Regions from separate parts of the Homo sapiens genome. Here all the other regions are reported to be linked to region 1. The links are microRNA targets in miRTarBase. Many come from high-throughput screens and were not tested one by one. Region 1 holds a microRNA gene; each other region holds the end of a gene's coding sequence.

What was found. The annotated mature microRNA hsa-miR-939-5p reads UGGGGAGCUGAGGCUCUGGGGGUG and lies in region 1 at 2,011-2,034, shown strand. An mRNA with a match to its seed (bases 2 to 7 or 8) in the 3' UTR can be bound and repressed. Matches are read on the target gene's strand: a 7mer-m8 pairs with bases 2 to 8, a 7mer-A1 pairs with bases 2 to 7 and ends in A, and an 8mer does both.
Region 2: miRTarBase lists DCAKD as a target of hsa-miR-939-5p. Seed matches in the 3' UTR shown: 7mer-A1 at 1,008-1,014 and 7mer-A1 at 1,549-1,555.
Region 3: miRTarBase lists FAM53C as a target of hsa-miR-939-5p. Seed matches in the 3' UTR shown: 7mer-A1 at 3,413-3,419 and 7mer-A1 at 1,616-1,622.
Region 4: the mRNA of GPS1 is a reported target of hsa-miR-939-5p. Seed matches in the 3' UTR shown: 7mer-A1 at 4,305-4,311.

The regions. Positions count from the first base shown.
Region 1 is chr8:144,390,940-144,396,226 of GRCh38, reverse strand. MIR939 (microRNA 939) reads left to right here and starts at 1,997; the gene lies at 1,997-2,078. It overlaps ADCK5 (aarF domain containing kinase 5), which reads right to left. Exons shown (of 15, transcript NM_174922.5): 5 at 5,171-5,287; 6 at 4,953-5,093; 7 at 4,753-4,866; 8 at 4,516-4,647; 9 at 4,361-4,444; 10 at 4,205-4,286; 11 at 4,057-4,135; 12 at 3,882-3,973; 13 at 3,530-3,782; 14 at 3,335-3,451; 15 at 2,985-3,258. The coding sequence ends at 3,153. It overlaps CPSF1 (cleavage and polyadenylation specific factor 1), which reads left to right. Exons shown (of 38, transcript NM_013291.3): 27 at 676-792; 28 at 872-962; 29 at 1,045-1,129; 30 at 1,204-1,345; 31 at 1,431-1,583; 32 at 1,672-1,848; 33 at 1,927-1,993; 34 at 2,067-2,114; 35 at 2,189-2,344; 36 at 2,431-2,560; 37 at 2,637-2,775; 38 at 2,862-2,996. The coding sequence ends at 2,909. RefSeq lists silencers at 319-532, 1,885-2,046.
Region 2 is chr17:45,020,104-45,025,351 of GRCh38, reverse strand. DCAKD (dephospho-CoA kinase domain containing) reads left to right here. Exons shown (of 5, transcript NM_001288655.2): 5 at 628-2,008. The coding sequence ends at 919. Among named protein-coding and RNA genes, the nearest start is that of DCAKD, 29 kb to the left of the region's middle. RefSeq lists a silencer at 2,971-3,320.
Region 3 is chr5:138,345,833-138,351,095 of GRCh38, reverse strand. FAM53C (family with sequence similarity 53 member C) reads right to left here. Exons shown (of 5, transcript NM_016605.3): 5 at 1,367-4,394. The coding sequence ends at 4,137. Among named protein-coding and RNA genes, the nearest start is that of KDM3B, 4.2 kb to the left of the region's middle.
Region 4 is chr17:82,056,203-82,061,473 of GRCh38, reverse strand. It overlaps GPS1 (G protein pathway suppressor 1), which reads right to left. Exons shown (of 13, transcript NM_001321092.3): 9 at 5,083-5,188; 10 at 4,924-5,004; 11 at 4,708-4,845; 12 at 4,500-4,634; 13 at 4,004-4,421. The coding sequence ends at 4,347. It overlaps DUS1L (dihydrouridine synthase 1 like), which reads left to right. Exons shown (of 14, transcript NM_022156.5): 8 at 121-265; 9 at 513-609; 10 at 691-773; 11 at 1,381-1,526; 12 at 2,656-2,693; 13 at 3,058-3,133; 14 at 3,220-3,968. The coding sequence ends at 3,359. Among named protein-coding and RNA genes, the nearest start is that of GPS1, 6.9 kb to the right of the region's middle.

The DNA.
Region 1 (5,287 bases):
GGCGATGGGGTTGAGGTCGAGGAGGTGGAACCTGTGACTTGGTTGCTCCAAAGGTCTGGAAAGGGGTGGTTGGGAGCTGGGGCTGCAGCCCCTGGGGTCCCCACCACTGCTCTGCCGGCTCGCCGGGCAAGCCCTCGCAGGGCCTGGCCTCCACACTTCTCAGGAGAGCTGACGTGAGTGCTAGCTCTGCCCCTTGGCTGCTCTGTGACTTTGGGAGGGCACACAGGCTTTCTCATCCTGGTTCCCTATTTAAGCCACCACACCACCAGGTCACTTGAGACCCTGCCTGGGATGCGGTGAGTGCTTCCTGGGTGCCTGAGGACTCAGGACTGTCCATGAAAGAGGGCAGCCCTGGCTCCCTCTGCCTGGTTTTCAGTCCCCAGCATGGCAGTCTGTGGGCTGCCCTTTGCAGCCTCCAGTGCCCTCCTGGCCTAGCTTTCCCATCCCCTGTGGCCAGCACCCCTAGCCCCAGCTGAGCGTGGGAAAATGGACAGGAGGAGCCCCAGAGGCTGAGTGGCAGCCCCTTCCAGGACCTCGCCAGGACACAGCTGCCCCTCACCCACCCCTGCTCCCACAGAGCTGAGGGCAACATCCCAGGGCTCTTGGCGGCCTGGGCCTGCCTGCCCCTGCCCTTGGCTAGCCCTGGATCCCCTGACCCCTGTGCCCCCACCCCAGGGCGAGCTGAGGATCAGTGTCCTGCCTGCCTACCTGTCCTATGATGCCCCATGGCCTGTCAGGAAGATCCCGCTGCGCTGCACGGCCCACTATGTGGCTTACCACGTGGAGTCTAAGGTCTGCCCCCACCCCCACCCCACCAGGGACCTTCTGGGCCTGGCCGGGCCACTGGTGTGTGACCCTCACTAACCCACAGGTGTATGCTGTGGCCACCAGCACCAACACGCCGTGTGCCCGCATCCCACGCATGACTGGCGAGGAGAAGGAGTTTGAGACCATCGAGAGAGGTGGTGACGCCCACACCATACTCCCATCCTCAGCCGCATCTTGGGGAAGCCCTACTCTGACTGTCACCCTTGGTCCCCACAGATGAGCGGTACATCCACCCCCAGCAGGAGGCCTTCTCCATCCAGCTCATCTCCCCGGTCAGCTGGGAGGCTATTCCCAATGCCAGGTGAGGCTGGGCCGGCGGGGGTGGGGTCTGCCCAAGGCCTCCAGGCAGCATCCTGAGGCCCCTGGCCCCCACAGGATCGAGCTGCAGGAGTGGGAGCATGTGACCTGCATGAAGACAGTGTCTCTGCGCAGTGAGGAGACCGTGTCGGGCCTCAAAGGCTACGTGGCCGCCGGGACCTGCCTCATGCAGGGGGAGGAGGTCACGTGCCGAGGGCGGGTAAGGGGCCAGTGAGCGGGGGCGGGAACTGGCAGCCCCTCTGCCATCCCCACAGCCATCCCACAGCCATACCCATGCCCTCCAGATCTTGATCATGGATGTGATTGAGGTGGTGCCCGAGCCTGGCCAGCCCTTGACCAAGAACAAGTTCAAAGTCCTTTACGAGAAGGAGCAGAAGGGGCCCGTGACCGCCCTGTGCCACTGCAATGGCCACCTGGTGTCGGCCATCGGCCAGAAGGTGTGCCAGTCCCACCCGGCGTGTGTCCCCCGGCTCACCCTCACCCGGCTCCCCGTCCGCGCCCGCTCACCCTCGCCCTCGCCCCCAGATTTTCCTGTGGAGCCTGCGGGCCAGCGAGCTGACGGGCATGGCCTTCATCGACACGCAGCTCTACATACACCAGATGATCAGCGTCAAGAACTTCATCCTGGCAGCCGACGTCATGAAGAGCATTTCGCTGCTGCGCTACCAGGAGGAAAGCAAGACGCTGAGCCTGGTGTCGCGGGTACACCTGTGGCGGCGGTGCTCGTGTCTGGGTGGGTACCCGCCCAAGGCACCTCTGACGCCCCCTTCCCGCCCCCAGGATGCCAAGCCCCTGGAGGTGTACAGCGTGGACTTCATGGTGGACAATGCCCAGCTGGGTTTTCTGGGTATGTGGGCAGGGCCCTGGGGAGCTGAGGCTCTGGGGGTGGCCGGGGCTGACCCTGGGCCTCTGCTCCCCAGTGTCTGACCGCGACCGCAACCTCATGGTGTACATGTACCTGCCCGAAGGTGAGTGCTTCCTCCACCCCCTCTGCCTGGGCCGGGGCTGGGCTAGCAGTGACCCCTAGGCCTTTCTGGTCTAGCCAAGGAGAGTTTCGGGGGCATGCGCCTGCTGCGTCGGGCAGACTTCCACGTGGGTGCCCACGTGAACACGTTCTGGAGGACCCCGTGCCGGGGGGCCACTGAAGGGCTCAGCAAAAAGTCGGTCGTGTGGGAGAATAAGCACATCACGTGGTTTGGTGAGTGTGGGGGAGCAGGTGTGTCTGGGTGGGGGGCCCTAGGGTTGGCCTGGCTCACACCAAAACCCTCACCCTACCCCTGCCAGCCACCCTGGACGGCGGCATCGGGCTGCTGCTGCCCATGCAGGAGAAGACCTACCGGCGGCTGCTGATGCTGCAGAACGCGCTGACCACCATGCTGCCACACCACGCCGGCCTCAACCCCCGCGCCTTCCGGTGAGCCCCGGCCCCGCCCCCGTGCAGCACCCCCTCCACCCCAGCCTGCCCTGACACCTGTGCCTGTACGCCCCAGGATGCTGCACGTGGACCGCCGCACCCTCCAGAATGCCGTGCGCAACGTGCTGGATGGGGAGCTGCTCAACCGCTACCTGTACCTGAGCACCATGGAGCGCAGCGAGCTAGCCAAGAAGATCGGCACCACACCAGACATAGTGAGTGCGCGCCCCGCCCCCCGCGCGCCCCGCCCCTCCGTGTGCATCCCCACCCACCCACCCACCCACCCTTCCATCCCCTGCAGATCCTGGACGACTTGCTGGAGACGGACCGCGTCACCGCCCACTTCTAGCCCCGTGGATGCCGTCACCACCAGCACACGGAACTACCTCCCACCCCCTTTTTGTACAAAACACAAGGAAAAACATTTTTTGCTTGAGAGGAGTGTGTGGTCATTACACGGCCTCCTGGCCCAGCTGCTGTCACAGCCCCCCAGTGCGAGTGCCCACGGGGCTCGGGGTGTCTACACCTCTAGCCCCGCCACCTCCGTCAGCCCAAGGTGAAAAGGGCCCCGCCGGCCCTGGGCGGCTGCACCCTAGGTCTCCAGGTACTGGTAGAGCTCCTCCGCTGGGGGCACGAGGCTCAGGTGGACCAGAGCACGAGCCAGGAGGGCGGTCAGCCGCATGGCCAAGGTCTCCAGCCTGCGTGGGTCAGGTCACAGGTCACAGGTGGGTGGGGAGCAGGCCCCCGCCACCCACCTGCCCCGCGGCCACTCACCTGAGCGCCACTTCAAACTTGAGCATCTCCCAGACGACCTTGGCGTGGCGCAGGAGGCTGGTGCCGTAGACACCCCGATACGTGGCGCCCGCCAGGCGGCTCCAGCCCCGGACAGCCCTGCACACACCCGCGTTAGCGCCGCGTCAGCCCCACACCAGCCCCACCACGGCCCGGGCGCCTCCTCGGGCCACCGACCTTTTAGCCATAAGGAAGTAGCGGTCCACGGGGGCGCCGAGGGCCACGTTGATAGCGCGCACGGTGTTGATGTTGCGCAGCACCAGCAGCATGGGCCGCGGCAGCTCCCTGAGCACCGCCATGACGGCCTCGAAGCGCTCGCGGGCCATGTCCACCATGTAGGCCGCCTCTTCGCGGCTCAGTAGGTGCGAGCCCCACAGCTGCCCCAGGCGCACGGGGCGCTGCATGAGCATCTCGGCGAACAGGAGGTAGTCTGGGGAGGGAGGGAGGGAGGGAGGGAGGGGGCTCTGAGTGGGTTCCGCGCCGCCCGACTCCCTTCTGTGGTGCCCCAGCCATCCCCGCACGCCCTCACCTTGCACCCCCAGTGCGGCTGCGTGCGCCCTCATGGCGGCGTCGTCCCGCAGGATGATGGCCCGCCACAGCTGGCAGAGGGCTGCGCGGTCCCTGGGTGTGGATGGGCCCGCAGCCATGAGCTCCCTGCGGCAGGAGAGGCTTGCCCTGCCCCACGCCCACCCACCCGCGCTCACTTCTCCTCCAGGAACTGGTAGAGCCCGTGGTCCAGCAGCACCAGCTCCGCTTTCCCGTCCGGGCCTTTCCGCACCAGAACTAGGGATACAGCCTCTTAGGTCGCGCTGCGCCCACCCTGAGACCCCCACCCCTGGGGTAAATTCCTACCGTTGCCAGGATGTGGGTCCGAGTGGATGAAGCCGGTGTAAAATATCTGCTCAGCAAAGGCCTTGATGAGCTTTTCTGCTATCTGGGGAGAGGAGAGGCATTGCAGTGGACACAGCACCAGCCCGCCCTGACCCGCCCCCGCCCCCCCGCACTCACGTCATGCACTGCCAGCCCCTGGCTCCTGATGGCCTCCACATCGTTGACCTTGCAGCCGGCGCAGAAGTCGGCAGTGAGCACGCGCTGGGGAGAGCAAGAGGCTGGGCTCAGCAGGCCCAGCGCTGTGCCCACCCCAAGGGCCTGGCCCAGCCCACCTTGCTGGACTTGTCCCAGTGCACGCGGGGCACCACGACGTAGGGGAAGTGCGCCAGCTCCCGCGCACAGCGCTCTGCGTTGCGGCCCTCATTCTCGAAGTCCAGCTCCTGGGCCAGGGTCCCCTTCAGGTCCTGGGGGCCAGATGGCGGTTGAAGACCAGCTCTGCCTACCAGCTGCTCCTACCAGCTCTGCCTACGTGTTTGCTCCTGCTGGCCGGGGAAGGGGTGGGGCTGTACCTGGAGGACCCAGCTGAAGCCAAAGCTGGGGTGCATGACCTCAACGAGCCGCAGCAGGAGCTCCAGGGTGTGGATGTCCCCATCAAAGCGGTCCCGCAGGTCGATGTACTGCACCTGCACTGGGCGAGGGTGTGGTGAGAACTTGGGGCCCCACTGTGCCCCGCCCCAGCCCACTGCTGAACAAGGCAGCCCCCATATACCTTCACAGCCACGCTGGTGCCATCGTGCAGCTTGGCTCTGTGCACCTGTGCCAGGCTGGCGGCAGCAATTGGCTGGTAGTCAAACTCCTGGAAGAGCTCGTGGGGGAGGGCCTGGAAGTCCTCAAGGAACAACTCATCCACCTGGAAGGACAGGTGCTCAGAGCAGCCTGGGGCCACTGCTGGAGGCCCCACCTCCCTCGGCCTGAGCGCACACTCACCTCCTGGAAGCCCCGCTTGAGGGCCCTGTCCTCTAGCACGCGCAGGGTCCGGGTATACTCGGGGGGAAGCAGGTGGTTGAAGGAGCACAGCCCCTGGCCCAGCTTCACGTAGAGGCC
Region 2 (5,248 bases), not on the chromosome of region 1:
GGCTTGTCTGTCCCACATCATCAGTGGCATTAAGCACAAGAGATACCATCTTAGCACAATCCTTTTACTCTAAATGTTCAGGGGAGGGGTATAGCAGCAAGGAGAGGGGGTCTCTGTGATGGCCCAAGGAGGTATTTTTGATACTGAAGACCCAGGCCCCCAGGGGAACTGCAGGAAGCGTCTAGCTCATAGGCATAGGCCTTTCAGTAAAGGTCACCCATCCAGGGATCCAGGATGTAGCTGGTTCCAGGTGATGAAATCTTCCCACCTTATGACTGGGGAATGTCAGGTCTAGTAGCAAAGCAAAGAGACCCCAGATGGCAAAAAAAAAAAAAAAAAAAAGAGCTGTGGCCAAAGTTCCCCCCTTGTTTGTATTAAGGGGCTTCCGTAGCCCATAGAGCTCTGGGTTCCTCACAGTGAGTGGAGTGGGGTGTGAGGCAGCCAGTGAGCTTCCAAGCCTCCCTCCCTGGCTGTGGGACCCTAAGTAGCCCAGAGCAGGGTAGGGTTGGAGGGAAGATCCAGTCCCCATGCTCTCTGTTTCAGGCTGGGCCTGGCAGGGCTGCCTATCCCTGTAACTTGGGGTGAGAGGGAGGCAGGACCTACAGTGCCCTTTTGCCCTATCCTTAGCGACCGGGACACACAGCTGGCACGGCTGATGCGGCGGAACAGCCTGAACCGCAAGGACGCAGAGGCCCGCATCAATGCCCAGCTGCCCCTGACAGACAAGGCCCGCATGGCCCGCCATGTCCTAGACAACTCGGGCGAGTGGAGTGTCACCAAACGCCAGGTCATCCTCTTGCACACTGAGCTGGAGCGCTCCCTGGAGTACCTGCCGCTGAGGTTTGGGGTCCTCACAGGGCTCGCTGCCATTGCCAGCCTCCTCTACCTGCTCACCCACTACCTTCTGCCTTACGCCTAGTGGGGCACTCAAGGCAGGGAGCCCCAGGCCTCCATCTATCTCCTTGGAGGCTGAAGCCAGGTAACACATCCTGTTTCCTCTCAGCCCCCTCCCCACACACACACACACACACACACACACACACACACACACACACACACACACACGGACTCTCCGAATCAGGGCTGGGCCTCTGTGCCAGGCCATCCCGTCTTTGGAGTGTATCCTATTTGAGATCAAGAAATAGCCTGCTGTCCTTCCCACCTTCCCTGAGCAGCACCTACAGAACAGCAACCGTGATGGTGTGTGAAAGCAACAGTCAGAGACTGCTATACATTTCTGTGGGTGGGGGTAGGGAATACTGGCTCTGTGGCCCTCCTCAGAGCTGGGAGGCCAAGGGTTCACTGGGCTTGAATCCTCTCTAAGCACCTACCCCATTGTGGCCTAAACCTCCTCAGTGGACCACGGGAAATCATGTTGGACCAAGGGTTTCCATGTTCAAACAGTCAACAAGGCCCTCCCCTAGGTTGAGATATTTTTTATACTGAAGGCCCAGGCCCCCCAGTATGGCTTGCTGCCAGCAAGCAGCAAGGATTCTCTCGTGGGTAACGCTGTAGCCAGGCAGGACCAGCCTCTTCTGGGAGACCCCTCTCCCCACGTAGGGTTTGTGTAGTGCTCCCACATCCTGCTTATTGCCTGCCACCCCTGCTTCTCGCCTGGACCTCTTGGTATTCCGTGTACACCATCCTTGCTGTTTCTTGCCTCTGTGCCTTCAACCTGCTGCTCCTGGCCTGGGATACCTTTTATTTTCTTTTATTTCTTCTTCCTTTTTTTTTTTTTTTTTTTTTTTAACCTACAACTAGCTCTCAGTTCAGGCACTGTCTAAAGCCCCAGGCTGGGTTAGGTGGTCTAGGATACCAACTCCCCCTCAACATTTTACCTTAATCCAACAGTACAGTAATTAGCCGAAACTTGCCTGGTTTTTCCTACTAGACTGTAAGCCCTCTAGGGACAGGGACAGTGTCTTATTCATCTCTGTGTTCTTAGTGCAGAGCCTGGCCCGCTGTTGGTGTTTAATAAAGTGTGTTGATCTGAAATGCCCCAGACCAACCAAGATTCCCAGACTTGGCTTCTTCCCACACTGGGCTGGAGTCCTCCCGGAGCTCAGGGGGAGGTGAGGGCCCCAGAAGGTGCACTTGCCATCAGGCTTCTCCCTGGGTCCCAGGAGGACTGCAGCCAGGCCCGAGGCACCTTTGTGGGAGGTGGGTAGAGGGCTGAGGCAGCGTCACACCTTCTTGCCCCGCCTCCCCATCTGCCTTCCCCAACCCAATTAGACCAGCGCAGACATAAGCCTTCCCTGCCAGGGCCTGCAGACTTGCTGATGTGTTGATCCTGCAGCCAGAAGCCTATTAAGGCTAGAAATGAGTGTGACGGATGCAAATGCTGTGGTGGCCATACTTAGTGCCCCCTTTCCCAGAGCCGCTTGTGCTGAGTCTAGCTCATTAACTTGCTGCAAACCCCTAAGGGGCAAAGAAGGGCCGGGTAAGGCAGTGGTGGGCTGCCAGGTGGGTGGCCAGGCAGGATGAGGGTGGCAGGAGCCTGCCACTTCCTCGGTTTGGTGCGATCCGCCAGGACGGAGAAAGGAGAGGGAAGGTATGGACCCCCACAGTGCCCTATCACCCCAATAATTGAGGAAATGGCACTTCCTAGTATCGGCAGCATGCCAGGCACTGCTGGATGTGTAAGACCCTATAGTTAACATAACACTGATTATTTCCATCCCAGGCTCAGAAAGATGGATTTGGTCCAGGTTGCAGAGCCAGGCTTCTGAACTCTCTCCTGTGCCCTGAGCCTCTTGTCAGGAGGAGCTGGAGCCTGGGGTTGGGCCTTGGGCTCGCATTCCGGCTCCGCTTGCCATGTGACCTCCTGCCTTTAGTTTCTACTCATACATCGTTAGGCTTCATAGTGGAGGACACTGAAAACCCTTAGCAAACTGTAAAGTTCCAGAGAATTAACCTTCCCTGACCCAGTGAGCTGGGTTTGAAGCAGGAATGTCAGAGCATGGCAGGTGTGGAGAAACCTCGAATTCAGCCCTGCCCTGCCCGGGCCTCGCCAGAGCTCCCTCTCCAGCTCCTCTTGCCTCCCTGCCCCAGGATCCCCTTCCCGGCCTTGGGGGTCCAAGGCGGCCTTAAAAGAAGGACTACTTTCTCCGAAGGGGACTTGAAGTTGAGGCCGCTCAGCAACTGCAGAGGTCGGGCCTCCGGGACCCAGGCCCGCGCCCGAGCCGGCGGCCTGCCGTTCGGCCGGCAGGTGGCAGCACCCTCCCGGGCTGGGCCGGGCCTCCGCGGCGGGCGCTCGCCGAGCGGCCTAATCTTCCTCCTCCCAGGCCGCGGGCGGCCTCAGACTCCTGCCGAGCAGCTGCCGCGGGAGCACGGGCCAGGTGGGCGCGGAGGCTCTGCCTGACCCTGAGCGCTAACTCAAAAGGTGCGTTGTTCGCCCACGTCCTCTGAGCCTGGGCTGCGGGCCCTGGGTGCCAAAGGGCGTGTCCCCTGCCCACCCACCGCGACGGCGACGGGACCCTGCAGCCTCCGCGTTCCGTTCCCTCACTTTGGGCCTTAGCACCCGGAGCGGAGCAATAAGACACCAGCGAGGGTGAAGACGCACACGCCTTCTGGGCGGGGGACGAAGGGCGCAGGCAGGCCTCTAAAACACCCCCACCCCCAGGCCCGACTGGCCCGAAGGTCATTCGCAGTTTCACAGTTTACAAAGCACGTTCCAGTTATCCCCTTGAAATCTCCCAGCTGTGTGAGGCAGACAGGTCCAGAATTTTACAGAGGCTCAGAGGTTGAGCCAAGGGGCCTAAGTAGCCAACAGGTATAACCACCAAGCTTCTTGACTCCCAGTACAGTGCTCCTCCGGCTATCTGCACTGCCCCCATTATACACTTTGGCTCTTTAGTAATTGACAACTCTTCTTCAAATGTTCATTCTCTCTCTCTCCTCATGGGGGGCAGGGCAGAGGCAGGGAAAGGTTTAGGACCTTCCATGATGAGCCTCCATGGCTAGAAATTGAATGGGAGCAGGATAGGCGCGCTGCTGAGCGCCCCTAGTTCTCACCAAGGCACTTTAGGTCAGAAGGAAACAGTCTCAGAGCAGGAGGGGGAATGCGATGGCAGTGATGACTTCAGGCCATGGGGTCATATAGGAGTGGGCAGGGAGACCCCCGGACATGGTGGGAGAGAAGGAGCAAAAGGAAGGAGGTGATGTGGTGCTATAGGTTGCTTTCCTGCTCCTTCCAGGAGAGACGTGGCTGGTGGTTCCTCATCCCACCTGCAGAGCTGAGGCTGCACCCAGCTGGGACCCAAACCGCCTCTCTTTGCTCCCCACCTTCCCCTCCGCTCCCAGTCACTTAGATTCCAATACAATTTCCAGCTAACCAGCATGTCGATAGAACAAGTCGGGCGGCCGGATTGCTGGCCAATTACAGGAAATCATTCTGCTCCACAGCTCAGCGCTCAGGAAGGGAGAGGGAGGGAGGGAATTCAAGGGAGCAGGCGCCCAGCTTACAGGCTGGGAACGGGCTTCAGGCAGAAGGCTGGGAGTGCTGCAGCCCCCCACCCCTGAGGGGTGGGGGGTGGGGGAGGCTCCTAGGGGCAGGCCAGCCCTAGGCTCATCCTCAGCCTCATGCGGAGCTCTGGATCCAACTTCTGTGTGATGGGGAGATTGGTGCCCCAAGCCACTAAGAGAGACAGAGCTGGGAGTTGAGTGTGGTTGAGGGTCCGGCAAGCGAGGCATCTTAGTGTCAAAAGGGATAGAAGCCGAGATAGCAGGACCACCCTCTCCCAGAGCCCTATGCACCAAGGAGTGGGCATCTGAGGGCCTGGAGGCTAGGGTCCACACAAGCAAGACCTGTGCTCTAACAGCCCGCTGTGGGCCACGGGGTACCTAGGAGGACAGGGGAAGGGGTCGACAGGGAGCGGGAAGGAAAGGGGCCACAGCCCACAGCTGAGTGAACTAGCAGCAGCCTCATCTGGTGAAGGAGTAAGTCTTCCACCCTGGAAGGTGGGGCACAGAAATGTGGGAAAGGCCAAGGGCCCCCTCCCTCACCTTCCTAGCTCCTCTGCCTCAGCTCCTGCCTCTGGCCCTCAAGAAAATTTCACTCAGATGAAAGGACCCCAGCTCCCCTCCTCTTTCCTTGGATCTGAATCTACCTCTGCCTTCTATGCCGACCTGGATGCCTCTTTGCCAGCCCCACCTCCTCCCATCACATCTCTCCCAGAACTGTTCCTGTGCCCCAGGCTGCCCTACCCGGCTGACCAGAGATGCTCTGCCTGTCGCACAGTGGTGAGCT
Region 3 (5,263 bases), not on the chromosome of region 1:
GAAATGTACCTAAGTTCACGGATGGGAAAGGCAAAAGGGAAATGCATTCAACAAATGTGACCAGCACTTTTCATGTGCCAGGAACTTCCCAAAGTGTTGGGGACACAATATTGAATAAAACAAAACTCTTGCCCTCATGGAGTTTACGTTCTTTCCTATATTAACAAGACTTCAGGAATGAAAAATAAAATCACACTTGGCCTCACAGAAAATAGCAGAAAAATCCAACAAAAATAAACTCAAAAGAAAAAAAGGGGGAAACAAAGTCATTTTAGATGTTCAAACTTTACCCCTGCTCAAGCAGTAGGTGAAATGAAACATCAGTTTTAAAGAAAAAAAACCCTGTAATTCTAAGCTTCTTTAACCACATGCCACTGCCCACCACTTCCCCAAAGCCCTTCCTTTGTTTCCAGGGCAGGTGACAACCCTCACTTTTTCTAGGGTGTATGTGCACCCCTGCAAAGATTCCTGCTCCAGGTAGTCAAGTCAGTCCTGTCCTGCACACACTTCATTGGTATTCAATGATGAGTGCCACCAATTTGAAGCAGGAAACCAGGACATAAGCTAAGCAACTTGACTCTTCTTGCTGCCTGGCAAATTAGCACCACAACTGGTAAAGAAAGGCTAAGCCTTAGAGACAGAGGCTCCTGCCTGGATCTCTAAGCAACTACACTTCACCCACACACATTGGAAGAATGTCAACATAGAGAGAAGAAAGGGTGGAACAGAAAGGTCTAAAGAGTGAGCCACATAGCTTCTTTTGGCAAACCAACACTCCCAAAGGAAACATTAGGGAAAATACTGTCTTCTACAACAAAAGAGAAGCTTTGCAGCTAGGATTATTTTCCAAAAGCAGTATTTTTAGGATGGAAAAATTGCCTAGGTCTATGGAATCTGAATTCTGATGACTAAACCTCTATCTCTCCAGGATGTAACATGTGAAAACTTAAGAAAGATCCCTGGCTGTCTCCCACCCTGCCTTCTCCCTACTTCCCAAAGCCTACAAACCAATCTAGACAAGTTCCTGACTGTACCATAAACCATTTCTCAGGGAGCTGGAATGCATTCATACTTGACTTCAACTTGCTGGAAGTGAGAGTGACAGCAGGCAGGAGGAGACAAGTATAACTGCCAGGGAAAGAGAGACCAAACCAGACTGCCAAAAATAACCAAGGCCTTAGCAGAAGCCTGGGCCACAGTATAACATCCTGCCATGGCCGGCAAAGGGCCTAGGGTCCAAATACTGCCCCTTTTTGAAAGGTTGACCCACATCTTAGATGAAGGGGCTGGAACAGTTAGGTGGCCTTCTACCCTGCTTCTTCCTTGTCTTTGTGGGGAAGGGAAGAAGACACTGTAGTACACAAGGTTGCTTGGGAAAATGGATTATTCTAATAAAACTTTATTTTTTCAAACACAGCCACAGAGGCAGAACCTCATGTTTAACACACACAGACTTATGGATTTTTCTTTTAATATAAAACAAAGTTTACGAAAATTTTTTTCCACTTTTTGTATTTGTAATCCCATTAGCACAGGGACTTTGGCAGCAGGTGGGAGTGAAGGGCAGCTGAGCTGCCACTGGGCAGTCACTGGGCACAGGAGGAGAGCACCAGCCTGGGGAGTGGCTTCACTCACACACACAGGGATACTCACCTACTGGCCAACCACACTACACACACAGCACAGATGCAGACATTGACCCAGTGTCAGCCACATGCCCTGGAGGTGTGCTCCACTCTGGGTAAGCCCAATATGTGAAAATTCAAATAGTCAAAACAGCTAAAGTGGAGGGAGGTTGCTTGCTTTACAAAAAGAAGCAATCATAGGCTGCTTTTAAATGGTCAGCAGTCCAAATGCATTGAAAAATAGCATTTGGTTTACACAGAACTGTTGGAACAGATCTACTGTGTAAAGCAAAATGAACCAATTCTTGAAAAGTGTTCCAGGGCCACAGGTTCTTAGATTGGGAAGCAAGATGACAGTTCTGACTAGCTTAGTTTTCCAGACTGAAAGTAATGGAATTAAAATAATGATAACTGTAGACCTTCTCCCCTAAGGATGGTGCCCTGGGGCTTTGGGGAAACCAGGATGGAGGCAGAATCACTGCCTCACTTCTTCAGCTTAGGGCCTACAGAAACTCACTGGCATTGCCAGTAACCTGTTGGAAGCTGGCACAGCCAATCTACAGCAGAGAGCCCTGGGATGAGGATGCCCCAGGAGGAAAAGAAATTGGCACCAGGGAAATTATGGCCTGAAGAGGGAGAAGAGCCAGGGGAGGAATGAAACCATAGATGGGCAACTCCTGGGCTCACAGTTTCCCTGGATTCTCTAGAGGGCCTCTCTCAGGCCCCTAGAGACCTGGTAGCCTAGTGGTAACTAGCCAGGAGATAGGGAGGAGCCTCTGAGGGCCAGAGGCTTAAGAAGACATAGCCACCTCCTCTCTGGAGTGGAGACGAGGAGGCTGAAGCCTCACTGATGCTCCTGACATGCAGGAGATCCAGAAAATGTCAGGTTCAATTCCATGAGGAAGAAAACACAAAGACCTTGGTCTTCCTCCCTTACATGAGGAACTGGGTCCTAGGAAACCCTGGAAATTGAAGAGAAAAATGCCCTTCTTGCCATAAACAAGGGCAGGTCAAATTTGGTCATGCAGGGTCTAACCACAGCTGGATAAAACCTCACAAGCTATTGTGGTGGCAGCTTCAGTATGTGTTTCCACTGGTGCCAGCCCTACCAAGGTACTTAAACCCATCACTGTGGCCACTTGGACCAGCTGTCCTGGCTCAAGTTGCGGGTGAGAAACAAAAAAGTAAATTCAATCCAATGACAACCAAACTCCCAACTGCTTCTCACAGCCTTTGCTTTATACATCCTCAGCCAATCCCTCAGTGAGCCCCAACCTCCCTATGGTCTCTCAGGCCCAATTAGAGGCAAATAAACACTTCCTGGCAGGAGTGGAAGACAAGCAAACTATTAAATGCTAAACACCCCTTCTTCCCTCTCAAGCAGGTCAAAAAGGCTGGGCCTGGATCTTGTAAGAATTGGTTTCCTGCAGTCACCTTCCCAACAGCAGTGCTGGGGTGAGCTCACCCATGTCTGCTGGGGACTGAATGCCACTTCTGTTGCAGGTCTGCCTCAGTAGATGCTGGGGACCAATATAGGGCCTTCCTACCTAGTCTATGACTTAGAAGGGCAGAGGGTGAGGGGAAAAGGGTCCCATCAGCAGAGGAGAGAGAGAGAGAGCCCCTCAACCCTGCTTCAGTTGCCCATGTGCTGTGTGCAACTCTACTCAAGAGGGCAAAAGAGGCAGGTGGAATATAGCCTGGACAATCTGATGAGAAAAAAAGGCCAGCTCAGAAAAAATATGGTGACACCCCCCACCTGCATTCCCCAATATACTAGATCGAGCTAGTGGGGAGGGGGTGGGGCTGAAGAAAAGATCATTAGCTGAAGTCACAGCACTTAAAACACCCTGCTGTACCCCAAAATGAAATCCTTTGCAGAGTCGGTGATGCTATGGATTACAAGCCTGGTTCCAGAGCTATTTAGAAAAAAGGAAAACTTGGTGCCCTCCTCTTGACTCCTTGAGCAAACCCAACATCCTGTAAAAAACTCAAGATCCTGGGGGTATCATGATACTCTGCTGTTAAGGAGCAATTGCCTTCCTTCCCTAAGGCTACGCAAACACACCTTTCCACAAGTACACTCCCATGCACGCACACACTCTCACGCAGTTTCTCTGAGGAGGCTGACTCAACCCCCCACCCTGGCCAAATTCTAAGACACAAGTGCCCTTTGAAGCAAAGGGGCTAGTGAAATTCCCCGAGCTGGGGTCGGCAGACCCCTTCCTTCCCTGCCCATTGCTCTCTTGGTGGCAGGGATACTCACACTCAGGGCCGCCATAGGAAGGGTCTGCTCTGGGGCTGTCCCTCCCGCCACCAGCTCCGTTTATCTTGTCCCGGCCAGTCTCTTGGCATGGTCGAGCTTGCTGGAGCGAGAAGATTTCCAGCTGCCCTGAGTCGGAGCCCTCCACTCACCCCCATTCCCAGGCTCGGCCCCCAGCCTTGGGGACTCGACACTTGTTAGTAGCCATGAGAGAGTCAGTCTGTGTGGCCCCAGGAAGTAGCCTCTCAGTTTTAGTTTTCCTCAATCAAATTCAAGTCCAGGTCCCCAAAGTCCCGCTGGCACAGTGTCCGCTTGCTCAGCGCCTGCCGACCCCACCGCACAGCCCCCTCCTCCTCCTCTTCGCTTTCACTCAGCACCTGGGAGGAACCCCCAGTGGGGCTGCAGGAAGCAGAGAGGGGTGGGGGGCTACAGGCCATGAACCATGGTGGAGAGATGCTGCTGCCTTCCCGGGCTGTTTCTTGGAGACAAAGACCTCCTGAGTATGGTTTCTGTCAAACAAACAAAGAAGACAGTTACACCTGAAGGCAAGAATTCTTTAGGGTGAGGTTTGTAAACTTTTTTTTTTTGAGACGGAGTCTCACTCTGTCACCCTGGCTGGAGTGCAGTGGCGTGATCTTGGCTCACTGCAAGCTCTGCCTCCCGGGTTCACGCCATTCTCCTGCCTCAGCCTCCCCAGTAGCTGGGACTACAGGTGCCCGGCCCACGCCCGGCTAATTTTTTATATTTTTAGTAGAGACGAGGTTTCACCGTGTTAGCCAGGATGGTCTCAATCTCCTGACCTCATGATCCGCCTGCCTTGGCCTCCCAAAGTGCTGGGATTACAGGCGTTAGCCACCATGCCTGGCGTTTGTAAACTTTCTGACAAAATTTGGAGCCCATTGTTTCCATTGAATTGAAGAATAGAAGCTCCGTGAGGGCAGGAACATCATCTGCAGTGTTTCATTACTTTGTACTGCCAGTGCCTAGTCAGAGTCAGTAAATGTTTGCAGATGGGATGGACGACTGTATGAAAAAATTAATTAATTCTTAAAGAGGTTTGTAACCTAGTGGTCTAGAAAGAATAATATGAAAAAAGTGAGCAAAGTGCATACATACAATAATTGTACTCACACCAGGAAGTCAAAAAACATTTGTCTAACAGATGAATACACTGTAGCAGCCCATCTTGCTTCAGCCCTCACAGACCCACTTTGAAGCAGTGACAGGCAAGTGGCAAAAACAGCTTTGGGCACAAGGAGTAGGTACTGATGGAATTTTTTGCAGCTTGTGCATTCTTGGAAAGGAGGGAAAGTACCTCTTGCAGGACAATTTGGGATCTCTGTTGGAAGGTTTAACATGGGTCTCACCCCAGTTTCTC
Region 4 (5,271 bases), not on the chromosome of region 1:
CTGAGCTGGCCTTGTCCCTTGTGAGGTGGCACAGAAGGGTGTCCTGAGTGTCCCAGGCTTTCCTGTGCCGTCCACCTGGAGCAACCCACGAGGTGTCCTTCCCCGCTCCTCCTCCCACAGAGGGCAACCTGCACAACCCCGCCCTGTTCGAGGGCCGGAGCCCTGCCGTGTGGGAGCTGGCCGAGGAGTATCTGGACATCGTGCGGGAGCACCCCTGCCCCCTGTCCTACGTCCGGGCCCACCTCTTCAAGCTGTGGCACCACACGTGAGTTGCCCCCTAAGGCAGAAGCCACGTTGGAGGGCCGCCCAGGCAGATTCCGTCAGACCCCACCTGGGGCATTTTGCAGGTTTTGTCAAAACAACTTGCTGCTAAGTCAGGTCTTGAGGGGCTGGGGTGACTTAGGAGTGGAGTTGGGCAGGAAGAGACACAGGTCCCCGTGTGCCCAGTGCTCAGCCTGGGGCCTGACGGTGGAGCCGGGAGCCCAGCCTGCGTGACAGGGCCTCTGTCTCAGGCTGCAGGTGCACCAGGAGCTGCGAGAGGAGCTGGCCAAGGTGAAGACCCTGGAGGGCATCGCTGCTGTGAGCCAGGAGCTGAAGCTGCGGTGTCAGGCAGGTGCTGGGGCTGGTGGGAGCCCGGCCTTGCAGGGGGTGAGGGGCTGGGGCCATGACCAGGGCCTTGGGCTTTTGCAGGAGGAGATATCCAGGCAGGAGGGAGCGAAGCCCACCGGCGACTTGCCCTTCCACTGGATCTGCCAGCCCTACATCCGGCCGGGGTGAGAGCCCAGCCAGCCCTGGGCGGGGATGTGCACCAAGGTGTGGGCTCCACCCTGTGCCCACAGTGCTGCGCCTGCCCTGCTTGTCCTCAGCCATTATGGTCAGTCATCTCCTGCCCAAGGGAAAGGAGGAGGGAGGCCTCGGCTCCGAGCAGCACACACCTTCCACGTGCCCCTCGGTGTCCTTGGTGGAGGATGCTGGTGGCTCAGCTGTGTCCTCCCTCAGTGGACGCTCGGATTTTAAATCTTTTCTTCCATAACATACTTCTCTGAGCTCCTCTGATCCTGGTGGATTTGCCCGTGGGTCAAGAGGTTGACCCCAGCTTCTGCTGGGTTCTCAGAGGTGAGGCCATCCGTGGCCACAGCCCTCCCTGGAGCTGGTGGTTCAGAGCTTGGGGCTGCCCGAGCTGCGGACTCCATCTCAGAGGCCCCGGACTCCCTAGTGACGAGTCCTGAATGGGCTGCCCGAGGGAAAGGAGGGCACTCCTCACAGCAGCGGCACTCGCCACGGCCGCCTGGCCCCTCACCCAGACTCAGACCCGTGTGGCTGTGGCTGCTGGGCCCCTCTCACAGTGTCCTTGGGCTCTGCCCGCTGCCCTCCCCTCAGGCCCAGGGAGGGGAGCAAGGAGAAGGCAGGTGCGCGCAGCAAGCGGGCCCTGGAGGAAGAGGAGGGTGGCACGGAGGTCCTGTCCAAGAACAAGCAAAAGAAGCAGCTGAGGAACCCCCACAAGACCTTCGACCCCTCTCTGAAGCGTAAGTGCTGCTTCCGCTGATGGGCCCGAGAGAGCCTCTTCATCACCCCCATCCTCCCTGTTGCCAGTAACAGGAACCCAGACTTGTGGTCAGCAAGGCTCAAGGCCCAGAGCTGGAAGCAGACACCTGGAGGGCTTGGCGGAGTAGTCAGCCAGACTTGGGGTCAGAACGGGGACCCTGTGCAGGCCACAGCCCGTGCATGTGGGACATGGGCTCAGTGAATCAGATGAGGCTATGGGACAAGCTTTTCAGCCAGGTGAAGCTCGTCTACAGCTCAGGGCCTCGGGTCCCTGCGGCTGCCCCTGCCCAGCCTCACACAGGACACCTGAGCAGCTGCTGAGAGGGAGGCTGGGGTCCCCGGGAGTGTGTGCATGGGTCTTGTTGCTGGGCCAAAGGCACGGGACGAGGCTGCTCGCCCCTCTCTTAGCCACCAGTGGCAAGGCCTCAGCCTAGTGCTGTCTCCCCTGAGACCCCTGGTCGCCGCCGTATCCTGGGCCAGCCCATCTGGGCCCTCAACAGGTGGCAGCCTCCCAGATCTCTGACAACTTTACAAGCTGCAGGGGAGACCAGCGATAACCCTGAAACCTTCCCATGTAACCCCCAGGGCGCTGGCCAGTCCAAGAGCAGCTGCCACATCAGGCTGGTGCCAGCAGTCCCTGCCTGCCACACTGCCCCCCACCAGGCCACTGAATGAGGCAGCTGGGAGAGGCAGGAAGTGGGGCTTCAGGCTGAATTCTTGATTTGACCCTTCTTGGCCCTTTTGCTTGGGAGACCTGGAACTGAAGGGCATGGAACCCCCCTTGGACCCTGTGGGCAGGAAAACTGCTCCCCTTGTCCCTGCCTGGGGGTAGGACAGATAAGGCTGCTCGTCCTGCGGCGGCCCCCCAGCCCACCTGCTTCCTATCCGTTTCCTGCAGGATGGTGCCCCCTGCATCCCCTCACCCATTGCTCACGGAAGGAAAAGCAGACGTGGCCAGCCTGCATCCTCTGCCCTCCCTGAGCCTCCTGGCCTGGCTGGCCACAGCTGGCATGGACGCCATCAGCAGGCTCCGTGCAGGCGGACGGGGCAGCCCCCACAGCCAGGGCACCCTGGCCCTCACTCACCAGCACCCTTTTGTTCTTTTCCTAGCAAAATATGCAAAGTGTGACCAGTGTGGAAACCCAAAGGTGAGTGGGTTCCGGCTGCAAGCCACCAAGGCTTCAGCTTTGGGGGTGGGCAGGGTGGTCTCTGCACTGCTTGGGGTGGCAGGTCTGGTGCCCGCCCAGCTGGGTTTGCAACGTGGCTCAAGGTGGCATGGATGCCTCAGGACGGCCCCTTGCTTCCAGCCAAGCCCCTGCCCAGGCCTGGAGGGGAAGAGAGTCTGGGTGGGTGGGGGTGAGGGAGAGGCATCTGGCTTGGGAGCAGTTCCCAGGGCTGCATCCAGGCCGTGGGCATCTGGCAGAGGCTTCCCCAGTGGGGCTGCTCCCCTGCTGGCCAGCCTGGCCCCGGGAGTGGTGCTGGCCACAGGCTCCCGAGATTTCCTGTGCCCAGGGCAACAGATGTGTGTTCAGCCTGTGCCGCGGCTGCTGCAAGAAGCGAGCCTCCAAAGAGACTGCAGACTGCCCAGGTGAGGGCGCCTACCACCCGCCCCGCAGCAGGCAAACAGACCCCCTCCGCCTCCTGACCCCCGACTCCTCTCACTCGCTCTGCCAGGTCACGGATTGCTTTTTAAAACCAAATTGGAGAAGTCTCTGGCCTGGAAAGAGGCCCAGCCTGAGCTGCAGGAGCCTCAGCCAGCAGCACCTGGAACACCAGGTGGCTTCTCCGAAGTCATGGGCAGTGCCCTGGCCTGAAGGCCCACAACCCCCACCCCCAGGACTGCTGCTGGAGCCTGGACACGTCCTACTTAAGAAAATGCCTTTTACTCAGGGAATCTCCTGCTACTTAATGTGGAAAGACACGCCCATGTCCCCCTTCGGCCCACTCTGGGGGCCTGGAAATGCTGCAGTGGGGAGCAGGCCCCAGGCTGGACCTGCCCTGTCCTCAGCACGCGTGTGCAAAAGTGAACAATAAATCATTTCAAAGATGCGAGAGCCCACAGCCTGTGACCACTGCCCTCTCAGACCCAGGGAGGCATGAGCCGGGGCAGGTGCGGTTGGGGCCAGTGGGGGCTTCTGAACAACAGGATACATCTAAATGAAGGCAGCATCTGGGTAGACAAAAGTGGGGGCTTAGGTCCCCTCCCCACCTCCCCTAGGCGCCTCCATAGGCAAGTGGCCAAAGCCTCCGGGAGCTTCGTGATGCCTCACAGCCTTGGAAGCACCGCCTGCGAGGCCACAGTGGCTGCTGCTGGGGGCTGTTGAATCTGAGGGCCAGGCTTCTCATTTCTCTCACCAGGCCCTGCCTCCAAGCCTAGTCCCAGGGAGACAGCCCTCAGGAACCCAAGGCCACCCAGGGGTGACCAGAGCCTGCACGGCAGGAAAGAACAGCCAAGAGCAACGCTGAGTCTGCTCTTTAATGGACACCGCCCACTTGTCTGCACCTGACTGAGGCGGGAACAGGAGGGGTCTGGGAAATGGTGCCACTGGGCCTGGGTGCCGCACAGTCTGCTCCCTGGGGACAGAAACCCACAGGGTCGAGCCCTGCAGGCCTCTCCTTCCAGGAAGGGCCACAACTAGCAGCCGCCTGCCTCCTCAGCCCCAGGGAGGGCACACAGGCTGGGTGGCACCCAGTGGCCAGGCCCCTTAGCTGGGCCGCAGGCAGCACTGAGCCGCCTGGAGGTCCGAGGTCCGTGGAGGTGGGGAGGGGGTGCAGATGTCCTGGAGGCCAAGGTTCACCCCTCACATGTTGGTGCTCATCCGGGACTGGCTGTTGGCTGGAGTCAGCTCCCCCTGGCTCCCTTCTCTGGGCGGGGACTGCAGGGGAGACAAGGAGCAGCTCACAGCCACCAGGCCCCACACGCCGTGCGCCTGCCCCCCCTCAAGCCAGCCCACCTTGACATGGATCTGGTTGCGGAGCACAGCTGCCCGCAGCATCATGGCCTTGGCGCGGCGCTGGAACTCCTTGCCCATCAACAGAGACTTCTCAAAGGTGGTGCTGCGCTGATCCACGTCCCGGGCGTATAGGATCTGTGCAGGCACAAGCTCAGCGGGGCCCAGGCTCACCCCCAGCTGCCCCCACCGCCCCGCAGCCCACAGCCACCTTGCTGTGTGAGTCCACACGGGCACTGATCAGCCCCTCCAGGATTAGCTGCGTCAGCTCGTCCTCCAGGGCGGCCACCGTGGTATTGAAGGCTGCCGCCATCCTATGCATGTCGGCTGACACGTAGGGGCTGAAATACTGCAGGGCAGAGGGAAGTCAGCTCCACAGCCCCCTGCATGCCCGCCTGCCGTGTGCCAGCCTGACCCCCACGCTTACCTGGATGAGGGCACGGTTGCGAATCTGGGTGTACAGGGTCCTGACATGGGGGGCCAGATACATGTCCAGGAGCAGGTTGTCCTGGGGAAGGGGCTGGTCAGGACCAGGACAGGAGGCCAGGCAGGGCCCCACCTCACCCCTACCCCAGGCGGGGCCCACCTTCATCTCGTCCAGCATCTTGAGACATGAGGCGTACTTGGACTCGTAGAATTTGAAGATGATGTCTCGGACCTGTGGCTCCAGCTCCAAGAACAACTTGAAGGAGCTGGTGAGGCAGACCCCTCAGAACTCTGTCCTCTGCCTGCCCCTCCCTCCAAGTGGCCAGTGGGACACCAGTCCCCAGACAAA